Regions from separate parts of the Homo sapiens genome. Here region 2 is linked to region 1. A link means that fine-mapping ties the variant in region 1 to the expression of a gene that starts in the linked region. Tissue or cell type: monocytes. Region 1 holds a variant in brackets; the other region holds the start of a gene. All regions are shown on one strand. Distances are from middle to middle.

What was found. PIP is the estimated chance that this variant, and not a neighbour inherited with it, causes the effect.
Region 2: CHLSN starts here. The variant in region 1 is fine-mapped to the expression of CHLSN in monocytes (TOPMed, PIP 0.99).

The regions. Positions count from the first base shown.
Region 1 is chr7:1,043,308-1,048,507 of GRCh38, reverse strand. All of the region lies in intron 2 of CHLSN (cholesin), which reads left to right. It overlaps GPR146 (G protein-coupled receptor 146), which reads right to left and starts at 3,962. Exons shown (of 2, transcript NM_001303473.2): 1 at 3,850-3,962. RefSeq lists silencers at 3,463-3,512, 3,693-4,182 and an enhancer at 4,288-4,843. The variant C/T (reference allele first, on the strand shown) is at 2,867.
Region 2 is chr7:1,135,953-1,141,080 of GRCh38, reverse strand. It overlaps CHLSN (cholesin), which reads left to right and starts at 2,834. Exons shown (of 5, transcript NM_001318252.2): 1 at 2,834-3,766. RefSeq lists silencers at 2,425-2,564, 2,765-3,214, 3,225-3,274 and an enhancer at 2,605-2,704.

The sequences.
Region 1 (5,200 bases):
GCCTGAGTGTGGGGATGGTGACCACCCCTCTCAACCTGAGAGGCACCCGGGTCCCTGTATGTGTGTGTGAGAGAGAGAGAGCATCATAGCGCCTGCACTGCACAGAGCTGGCAGAAACAGAAACCAGCAGAGGAATCCTCTGCTCCAAGGTGGCTGAATTAGTTTCACAAAAGCCATCGCTTTTGATGTTGCTGTCCCTGTTAGTCGGGAAGTTCTTTCCTCTGTTGCTTAGGGCCCTGTCAGAGCTGGGGCCGGCAAGTCCCACGCCCGGTGATCCCCACGAAGTTTCCGGGTGCTCTCTTTCACACTGTCTTTTGCGGATGTTGATCCCTTGCCTAGAACACCCTTTCTCGCTTCCCCTCGTTCTCTCAGCAAACACTGGCTCGTCCTTGACATTTTATTTTGGGCATCAGTACCCCCGGGAACCCACCCCTGACCACTGTCTCCACACCCCTCCGCCAGTCTTTGCTGGGTTAAGCCTGTCCGCACATCCATCTCTTTCCCACCTACTTGGAGCTCTTTGCAGGCAGGGGAAGTTTTTATGTGTGCTGCAGCAGCCTGGCTGACTGTTGGATGAAAACCGTAGAAGGGGATGTATTCAGTGACGTAAAAGGCTTTTCCCCAAGGCGAGTGATCCACCAAGGCGAGTGATCCAATTTCCCCACTGAGTAGAAAGGAGAGCAGGCAGGATGGGGACTCAGCGCTTCTTATTGTCCCCGGACAGTTGTTGAAGCTTTAGAGCCTTAGATTTGAGTGGAAAGAGAACTGCGAGGCCCCAGGCACTGCATCCTCAGGATGGCAGGAAAGGAGTGGAAAGGCCACGGCCAGCTCCTGGCCGAACCTGCCATGCACCATGAGACGCTCAACCTTGGGTGAATATTCTAGAACAATCAAAATGCTTTCAAAATGACTCTGGAATGTTTATTTTCTTTTGTAGTAATGAACCCAGGCTTTAGCAACAATTAACATCCAGCTCCTAGGAGCCAGATGCTTAGGAAAGGCTGCTGTTTTCACAGGGTTTCCACGTGGAGAGCTTACGCACACTGATTCCTATCTGTGCCTTCCTGGGCTGTGATAAGAAATGGTTCATTACATAGGTGGATGGTTTTGATTTTTGTAGCCTTTTGCTTTTTACAATTCCAAACTGCAGAGTAGTGAGAGTGAATCAGGTGACTTGGCTTAGACTATAAACAAAGAGAATGCCTCTCTTTTTCCATGGATAATAGCGAGCATGTTTGCGGCTCCAGGACGGGCTCTGGGGGCCTGAGACCAAGCACCTTGCTGGGCCAGTGAGCGGGCTGGGCACCTGTGCCTGCAGCTATGGGCGCCAGTTCCCTGGAGGAAGGTGGAACAGCATTCTTTTGTTTACTTGGCTTTTTGTTCCCTAACTGGGTGTGAGGCTAATTCCCTCTCCAGGTACATCAGACCAGGGAAAAACAAAAACAAACAAAAAAGACTTCCTCAGAAATTCAAAGACATGGCCAAGAACAGAGAGTCTCTACTGCAGACTCTGGGCAGGCTTGGCACCTGCCGGGGCTCCTCAGTCGAGCCCCGGTTTACTAGGCGTGGCCTTAACCTGCAGGGAAGTGCTCTGAGCCGCAGATCTTATCACCACCTTGGTTGTTTCCCAGGGAGGAGCCAGCAGGTTATTTCTCCTCATCACACTAGCTGTGGTAGCGACAGTGGTCTGCAAGGCTTGCTTTGGTTCCAATTAAAATGGGGAAAGTCCTTGGCCTTTGCAGGAAGGGACCTGGGTGTGGCTCTGTGGGGATGAACAGACACCTGCCCCACCTCCACCTTGTCCCTCTGCTGCTCAAGGGGGTATTTTGTTTGCACACGGAGGCTCCTGGGTAGACAGCACGCTCCTAAGAAACTGACTTCTGGTCCCGGGCAGCATCTCATTTTGGGATCTCAAATTGGAGCGAAACGTTATTCTACTCTCCAGACTGGGTTCCCTGTCCTCTTGGCTACCTGGATGGTGTCTTGGGGTCCTGAGCCTTTGAGACCCCTGGACAGATGTGGGCTAACTGGACAGCCTAATGCTGGTCAGTTGGGCAGGTGGGTTAGTGAAAGCCCTGGAGAGCAGAGGAGCTGGCAGGCAGGAGGGAATGGCTGGGAAACACTGTTGACAGAAAACAGCACCGTGGGATCGTCGTGTGCATGACACGGTCGGCCGGGTTCTCTGGGTGATAATTTCCTTCTGCAAAGGCAAGACCTCGCTGTGGTTGGGTCATTAAAGGCCAGGCGGCAGTTATTTTTTCAGGATTCCAGGTGACATCCTAGGGGCTGTGAGAGCTGCAGCTCCCTGAGGAGCCCCTTCTTCTCCCTGCCCCAGTGAGCAGCATGTCCCTCTTCCGACTGTAAATTACACGAGCATATTTCCCCATGCAGCGATCTGTGCAGTATGCCATTGATTCATTGTATGATAGACATAATCAGCCTTTACATCCTAACCTAAGACCCACATGAGGTGCGCGCCCTTTGCCCTTCTCTCTTCATCAGCCTACTGGGGCTTATGAGTTGCAGGGACTCCAAGTCAACTTTCACATTTACATTCTGCCCTAAATCTGTGTTCCTCTGTCCTCCATCCTCAGGATATGTCCATGCTGGCTAGAGAGGCAGGATGACACGTGGACGCCAGCACGGATGTGTGTGGCGTCGGGCAGTGAGCTGCTCTGGCCCCGACCTCTTCTCTGTGAAAAGGCACAACAGTATTCAATACATATAAACTATGTTCTTAAGTCACTTGTCTTCAGAGGCCTTCTTCATTGAGGAAGACAACAGGGGTTCTGGTTGGGGAGCCAGGCCTTACAGTAGTTCTTGAAGGAGCTGCACAGCAGGTCATGGGTACTGTGAGTGTGCACTT[C/T]GTCTAATTATTAACAGTGCCTCCGTTCACTCTCAACGGTGCCCCAGTTAGGACGGTAGACTATCTCATCACCACTATGCGTGAGGAGCCTGGGAACATGGTCAGAACCATTTTACTCATACAAGTTTGCAGAGGCCTTTAAAGCAAGCCTCTTGGCCCTCTGTTATTGAATGCTGGCCTCTGCTAGGTGCTGCAGGTAGCAAAAGATAAAAGATGTCGTGCTGTTCCGTGTGGACAGGAGCTGGCTATTTAAAGTGGAATGGAGGACTCAAGTACATCTTCATGGGCAGGGAAGAGATCAAAGGCTGTGGACGACGAATACAGAATTATCCTCTGGTCCACCACGTAGCATGCATGCAGAGATAAGCCACTGTGACCAGTCACATCAAGATTCATAGACTTATGCCTAATTTAGAGAACTGACTTGCCAGGTTTGTAATACTAACTTAATAGTGGGTTTTCTGCTGCTGGTAGTGGTGGTTTGGCGGCTGGAGAGCACTGCCTTCCAGTGAAGCTTTGAAAGAGCCGTCCCATGCCCTGCCAACTGTCCAAGACAACTGACAGCAGATCCGACACCTCCATGTAGACACAGATCCAAAACTCACTTTAAAATACTAATCACAGAAGGGGCCGAAAGCAGTCACCATAGTGGCCCAGGAGAGCAGGATCAGTGGTGCCCTGTCGGACATGGGAGAGCCGGTGGCGGCGCTGTGCCGCCTACGCCAGCAGCAGATTCAGCTGCCATCACCAGGTTAATGACCGAAAGCCCGCCCCCGGGGCTCAGCTCGGAGCGCGGCCGGAGGACAGCGGTCCCCTCCTGGCAAGGGCACGGAGCCCCGCAGTGGGCAGCGGCCAGAGGACCCGGGTCCCAGTAAGCGCAGCGCCCGCCGTGGGAGCCACAGCAGCTTGGGGCTGGCTCCCTCCCCAGGCGGAGACTGGGGTGTGCCCCACCGACCCGACCCAGGCTCCCGGGCCCCACTCACCGGCTTGCTGGGCGGCGGCCGGCGCAGTCGCCGCCGGGCGGGCAGCTCGGGCTGGCGGAGGCGGCGGGGCTCACGGCGCGCACGCCGCCCGGGCCCTGTGTACACACGTGACCGTCGGCCCCGCCCCCGGCCGGCGAGCGGCAGCCATGCCTGGCCCCGCCCCCAGCCTTGGTCCCGCCCTGGCCTCCGCCCCCCGGCCCCGCCCTCGCGGCTAGACCGCGGGGAACCGCTCGGACCAGTGAGGTTGGGGGGCGGTGGCGGTGGAGGCAGTGCTGGTTGTGTAACCTGAGACCAGCCATTTGACGAACTCGTGCGAGATTCCCTGTGGGAGGACACACACCCAGGGCTCTGGGAGTTTTTGAGAATTCTCTTAGTGCCCAGCGCGGTTTCTTTTTACAGGCGCTGGTGCCTATTTTGCTGAGTCAGAATATACCCTAATCTGCAGGGTGCAGGCCCCACCGCCCTCCAAAGGAAATGAGTGGCTGCAAGTTAGTCCTTCCAGGTACACCTGCCCCTCTTTCTTCACCGAAGTTTGCTTGCTGTTTCCAAAGTCACCAATTACTTCCTGGTTTTAGGATTTTCTTTGTAAACGGAACACTCACAGGAAAGCCGTTTAAAGAAACACATTGCTGCCTGATTACTTTTGTAGCTATTGTTACAAGTTAAACATTGGAAAAGTTGAAACAAGGACATTTACTTTGCTGTAATTTTTGAGGTGAAACAGTCCCCCCTGCAGCACATTCTGGTTCAGGATCTAAGAACATTTCTGAAAATCAAAGCATGTGGGTTGCACAGTTCCGCATAGACTTGCTGTGAGCTGCGGGCCGAGTGGAACACCAGCAGGAAGAATAGCGGCCACTGGCCCTCCGCTGCATGATGCTGTGGCCTACTGTGTTCAGGGATGTACCTCAGCCACCTTCCTGGACAGGACGGCTTCCTGACCGTGGGTCGGAGTGGGACGTCGGGATCAGCTTTCTATTCCAGCGGGAGGGCAGGGAGAGGCTCACCACGGCCCACGCCTGCTGATGTGATACTGACTTGCTGCCCAGCCCGGCACCAGGTCCCTGGCACAGTGGATGCAGCCCGGGCCCTGTGTGCCCAGAGGTGCCGGGTACTGATCTTACTTGCCAAAGTCAGTCACAAGCAGCCAACACCGATACCTGAGGGCGTATTCTGTGTCAGGTTCTGTTCTGAGCCTCAACCATTGTTTTGAGGTAGATACGTCCGTATTTCATCAAACCTAAGACACGATTGATTAGTGTTAGCTATGCCATTACTTTATGGATTACTAAAAAGAAGGCCCTCTGCCCACTGCATTCCGACATACTGCTGATTTTAAGGCGCAGCCTCA
Region 2 (5,128 bases), 93 kb before region 1:
GATGACCCTAGATAGCCTGACAAGGGTATCGCCTGAGAATGTGTGAAGATGACCCCAGAGAGCCTTACAAGGCTATCTTGTAAAGGATGTTCAGATTTACCTATTCAAGGCCCATCTTGAGCTCTCCCTGCCACAGCCCTGGGATCAGCCATTTCTCCCAGGAGCCCTGGTCCGTATTCATGGGGGATGGTATTTAGGAGCAGTGTTCTGGGTGCCAGGAGTGCTCAGTGCCACTGGGATGTCATTGCATCCAAGTCCTTTCAGCATTTCTGTATTAGTCAGTATTCACACTGCTATTCAGACATACCTGAGACTGGTAATTTATAAATAAAAAGAAGTTGAATGGACTCACAGTTCCACATGGCTGGGGAGGCCTCTCAGTCTTGGCGGAAGGCAAAAGGCACATCTTACATGGCAACAGATGAGAGAAAATGAGAACCAAGCAAAAGGGGTTTCCCCTTATCAAACCATCAGATCTCATGAGACTTACTCACTACCAAGAGAACAGTATGGGGGAAACTGCCCCCATGATTCAATTATGTCCCACCAGGTCCCTCCCACAATGCATGGGAATTATGGGAGATACAATTCAAGATGAGATTTGGGTGGGGACACAGCCAAACCATATCAATTTCCAAAAATAAAAATGAAAAAAAATTATTTTCCTTTTTTCCTTTTTTTTTTTCACCCAGGCTGGAGTGCAGTGGTGTGATCATAGTTCACTGCAGCCTCCATCTTCCAGGCTCAAGCAATCCTTCCACCTCAGCCTCCTAAGTAGCTGGGACTATATGCGTGCACCACCACACCCAGCTAATTTTCTATTTTTATTTTTGTAGACATGAGGTCTTACTGTTTGCCCAGGCTGGTCTTGAACTCCTGGTGTCCATCCATCCTCCTGACTCAGCCTCCCAAAGAGCTGGGATTACAGGCCTGAGTCACTGCACCTGGCCATGATTCACTTTTTTTTTTTTTTTTTTTTTGAGCTGGAGTCTTGCTCTGTCGCCCAGGCTGGAGTGCAGTGGCGCGGTCTCAGCTCATTGCAACCTCTGCCTCCCGGGTTCAATAGGTTCTGATGCCTCAGCCTCCTGAGTAGCTGGGATTATAGGTACATGCCACCATGCCTGGCTAATTTTTGTATTTTTAGTAGAGATGGAGTTTTGCCACGTTGGCCAGGCTGGTGTTGAACTCCTGACTTCAAGTGATCCATCCACCTCAGCCTCCCAAAGTGCTGGGATTACAGGTGTGAGCCACCGCACCCGGCCGACTTCTAATGAACAGAATATGGCAAAAGCCTAGGGAAGTCACTTCTGAGATTAGGGTGCAAGGAGACTGTGATGTGCGTCTTGTGTGTGCCTCCTCTTGTGTGTGCTTGCACCGTCTAAGGCAAGCCAGCTGCAGTGTTGTGAGCTTCCTTGTGGTAAGGCCCATGTACCAAGGAACTGAGGGTGGCCTTTGGGCAGCAGCCAGCAAGGCTGAGGCCCTTCTCTAATGACCTTGGAGGACTGAGTCCTTACAATATCCGTGTGTGTGAGCTTGGGAGTGGATCATTCCAGATAAGCTTTCCGATGAAACCACAACCCTGGGGGGACACCTTGACCACAACTTGGTGAACCCTTGAGGCAAAGGCACAGAGCTTAGCCACGCCCACTTTCCTGACCGCGGATACCATGAAAAAATAAATGTTCTTTTAGGCTGCTAAATGTTGGGTTAATTTGTTATGCAGAAAAAGGAACCAAATACAATCTTCTACCAGTAAGGAAGAGTGCACCTTCTTTGCTTGTCACCTTTGGATTCCTGAGGCAACGTACATCATACTTGATACGGCTGCCAAGCACTTAACTTACTGGGTGACTTGAAAGCATGCTTTTTTTTCTTTTTTTTTTTTAGACGGGGTCTGGCTCTGTTGCCCAGGCTGGAGTGCAGTGCCTTGATCATAGCTCACTGCAGCCTCCATCTCCCAGGCTCCAGCGATCCTCCCACCTCAGCGTCCAGAGTATCAGGAACTACAGGCACGTGCCACCATACCCGGCTAATTTTTATTTTTTTAATTTATTTTTTATTTTTTAAAACAGAGTCTCATTCTGTCGCCCAGGCTGGAGTGCAGTGGCACGATCTCGGCTCACTGCAACCTCCACCTCCCGGGCTTAAACGATTTTCCTGCCTCAGCCTCCCGAGTAGCTGGGATTACAGGCACCTGCCACCACGCCTGGCTAATTTTTGTATTTTTAGCAGAGACGGGGTTACGGGGTTTCGTCATGTTGGCCAGGCGGGTCTCGAACTCCTGAGCTCAAGCGATCCGCCCGCCTGGGCCTCCCAAAATGCTGGGATCACAGGCGTGAGTCACCGCTCCCGGACACAAGCATTATTATAACACTACCCACCCTGTGTATTTTTTAGCACCTATCCTGATTTTTTAAATTCAGCACGAAGTTTAAGTCCTAGCCCTGTTGATCCCAATAGCCGTAGCTCATCCATTTCGACTCCGAGCCGAGCTCCATACCCTGGACCCTCGGCGGAGGCCCCACCCCGGGACGCCAGCCCGGCCGGGGCAGCTTGCACCCCAGACCCCCAAGCCCTGCGGGGCCCAAACCTAGTCATCTGCACTTGTTCTGGGCAGGGCGGGTTGCCTTGGCAACCAGCTCCTCTCCAAGCAACTCTAGGCCTCTAGAGATGGCGTCAGTAGCCCGCGCCCGGTCCTGGAACCGCCCCCCGTGCTGCCGCCGCTTGCCATTAGCCGGCGGAGAGACGGACGCAGACCTCGTCCAATGGGAGGCTCCGCACTCCTGAAGGCGGGACTAACGCTTACCTGGGGCGCGGGTCCCTGCCGGAAGGCGGCGTCCGCGACGCAGCTGTTCACGCTTAGGTGGGCGACGTGGGCGCAGGTGGGCGCAGGTAGGCGCGTGGGGCGGCGGCGGGGTGGCCGGCGGGTCAGGGCGCCAGGAGACCCAGAGCCCCGGGGCGGGCTCCCGCGGGGCTCCGCCCCCTCCACGTGGGTGCGCGGAGGCCCGGCGCGGCGCGACCGGGCGGCGGCCCTGGGGTCCGCGGTGCTGGGGAGGCTGGTGCGGCCGGTGCGGCCGGTGCGTCCCGGCGCGGGCTCCGACACCCGCACCCGCCTCTGGGTTAACTCAGCGCGGGCGAGTGGAAGGGACTCAGCTGGCTCCTAGGTTTCAGGCCGTCAGGGCTTGCAGTGGCTCTGGTTTCATTGTCTTTCTCTGAAGACGCCCTGATTGCCCTCCGAGGCTTTCAGCTCCCACTTTCTCTTTTTCAATTTTTGAGGCAGTGTCTCGCTGTGCCACCCAGGCTGGAGTGCAATGGCGTGATCATAGCTCACTGCAGCCTCCACCTCCTGGGCTCAAGCCGTCCTCCCGCCTCATCCTCCCAAGTAGCTGGGACCACATGCGCGCGCCACCACACCCGGATAATTTTTAAAAATGTTTTTTGTAGAAATGGGGTCTCACCATGTTACCCAGGCTGGTCTCGAATTCTTGGGCTCAAGCGATGGATCCTCCTGCCTCGGCCTCCCAAAGTGCTGGGATTACAGGAGTGAGCCAACGCGCTTGGCCTCACTTTCCATCATAAGCATGCTTTCCGTTTCCTTCCTTCCGTCATTCATTCATTCATTTTTAAAAAACGTTCATTGGGTTCCTCCTGCACTGTTCGGGGCATTGGGCTACAGCTGTCAACAAGTGGAGACAAGTCTGTGATCTAGTGAACTTCCATTCTGGAGGGGAGAGACAGATGAACAAGGTGCACAGAGCAGGTGATGGTAAGTGCCATGGAGAAGATGAGAACAGGGGTTTTGAGAATGGAAAGGAAGCAGGAGGAGGAGTGAGGCACCAGAACATTCCAGGTCGAGGAAACAGCAGGTGCAGGGGAAACAGCAGGGAGCCCAGTGTGGCTGCAGCCAATTTGGGAACAGAGAGAGAAAGAGGAGGTGAGTTCCCAGAGATGCGAGGAGGGGCCAGGGCAGTCGTGTGGACCTTACCAAGTGGCAAGGACCTTGACTTTCCCTCCAAGTGGAAGGGGACAGCTTGGGAAGTTTTTTGAGTGGAGGTGACACACCATCTGATTTAGGAGTTTAAAAGCCATCGTGAGAGGTGGTGGCTTGGACTGGGTACCTATGGGATCTTAAGGGAGTCACATTCTGGGTGTATTTCAGTGGTAAACCAACAGGAGTTTGTGGTGGGTTGGACGAGTATGTGAGAAAGAGAGGATTTATGGATGGACCAAGGTTTTAAGCTTGAGCTACTATGTGAACCTCATCAGATGGATGTTTATGGAGAGGATGAACACTAGGAAGCTCAGGTTTGTGGAGGGTGATCAGGGGTATTGATTACGAATTCTTAAGCTTGAGATGATATATGTGTAGATGATATATATAAGTACATATATATGGTTATATATATAGTTATATATATACACAGTTTATACACACATCCGCATATATATATTTATTTTTATATATTTATATATATTTATATATGTTTATATATGTTTATATATGTTTATGTTTATATGTTTATATATGTTTATATATGTTCATATATATGTTTATATATATTTATATATGTTTATATATATTTATATGTTTATATATGTTTATATATTTATATATGTTTATATATGTTTATATATATTTATATATATGTTTATATATATTTATATATATGTTTATATATATTTATATATATGTTTATATATTTATATATATTTATATATATGTTTATATATATTTATATGTTTATATATTTATATATTTATGTTTATATATATTTATATATGTTTATATATATTTATATATATTTTATATATTTATATATGTTTATATATATTTATATATATTTTATATATTTATATATGTTTATATATATTTATATATTTGTGTATATATTTATAATTATGTATATTTATACATATTTATGTATATATATTTATATATTTATGTATATATTTATATATATTTATGTATATATATTTATATACACATTTATATAAATTTATATATACTTATATTTATATATATTTATATATACTTATATATTTATACATATATTTATATATACATATATATTTTATATATATATTTATATATGCTTATATATTTATATATACTTATATATATTTATAT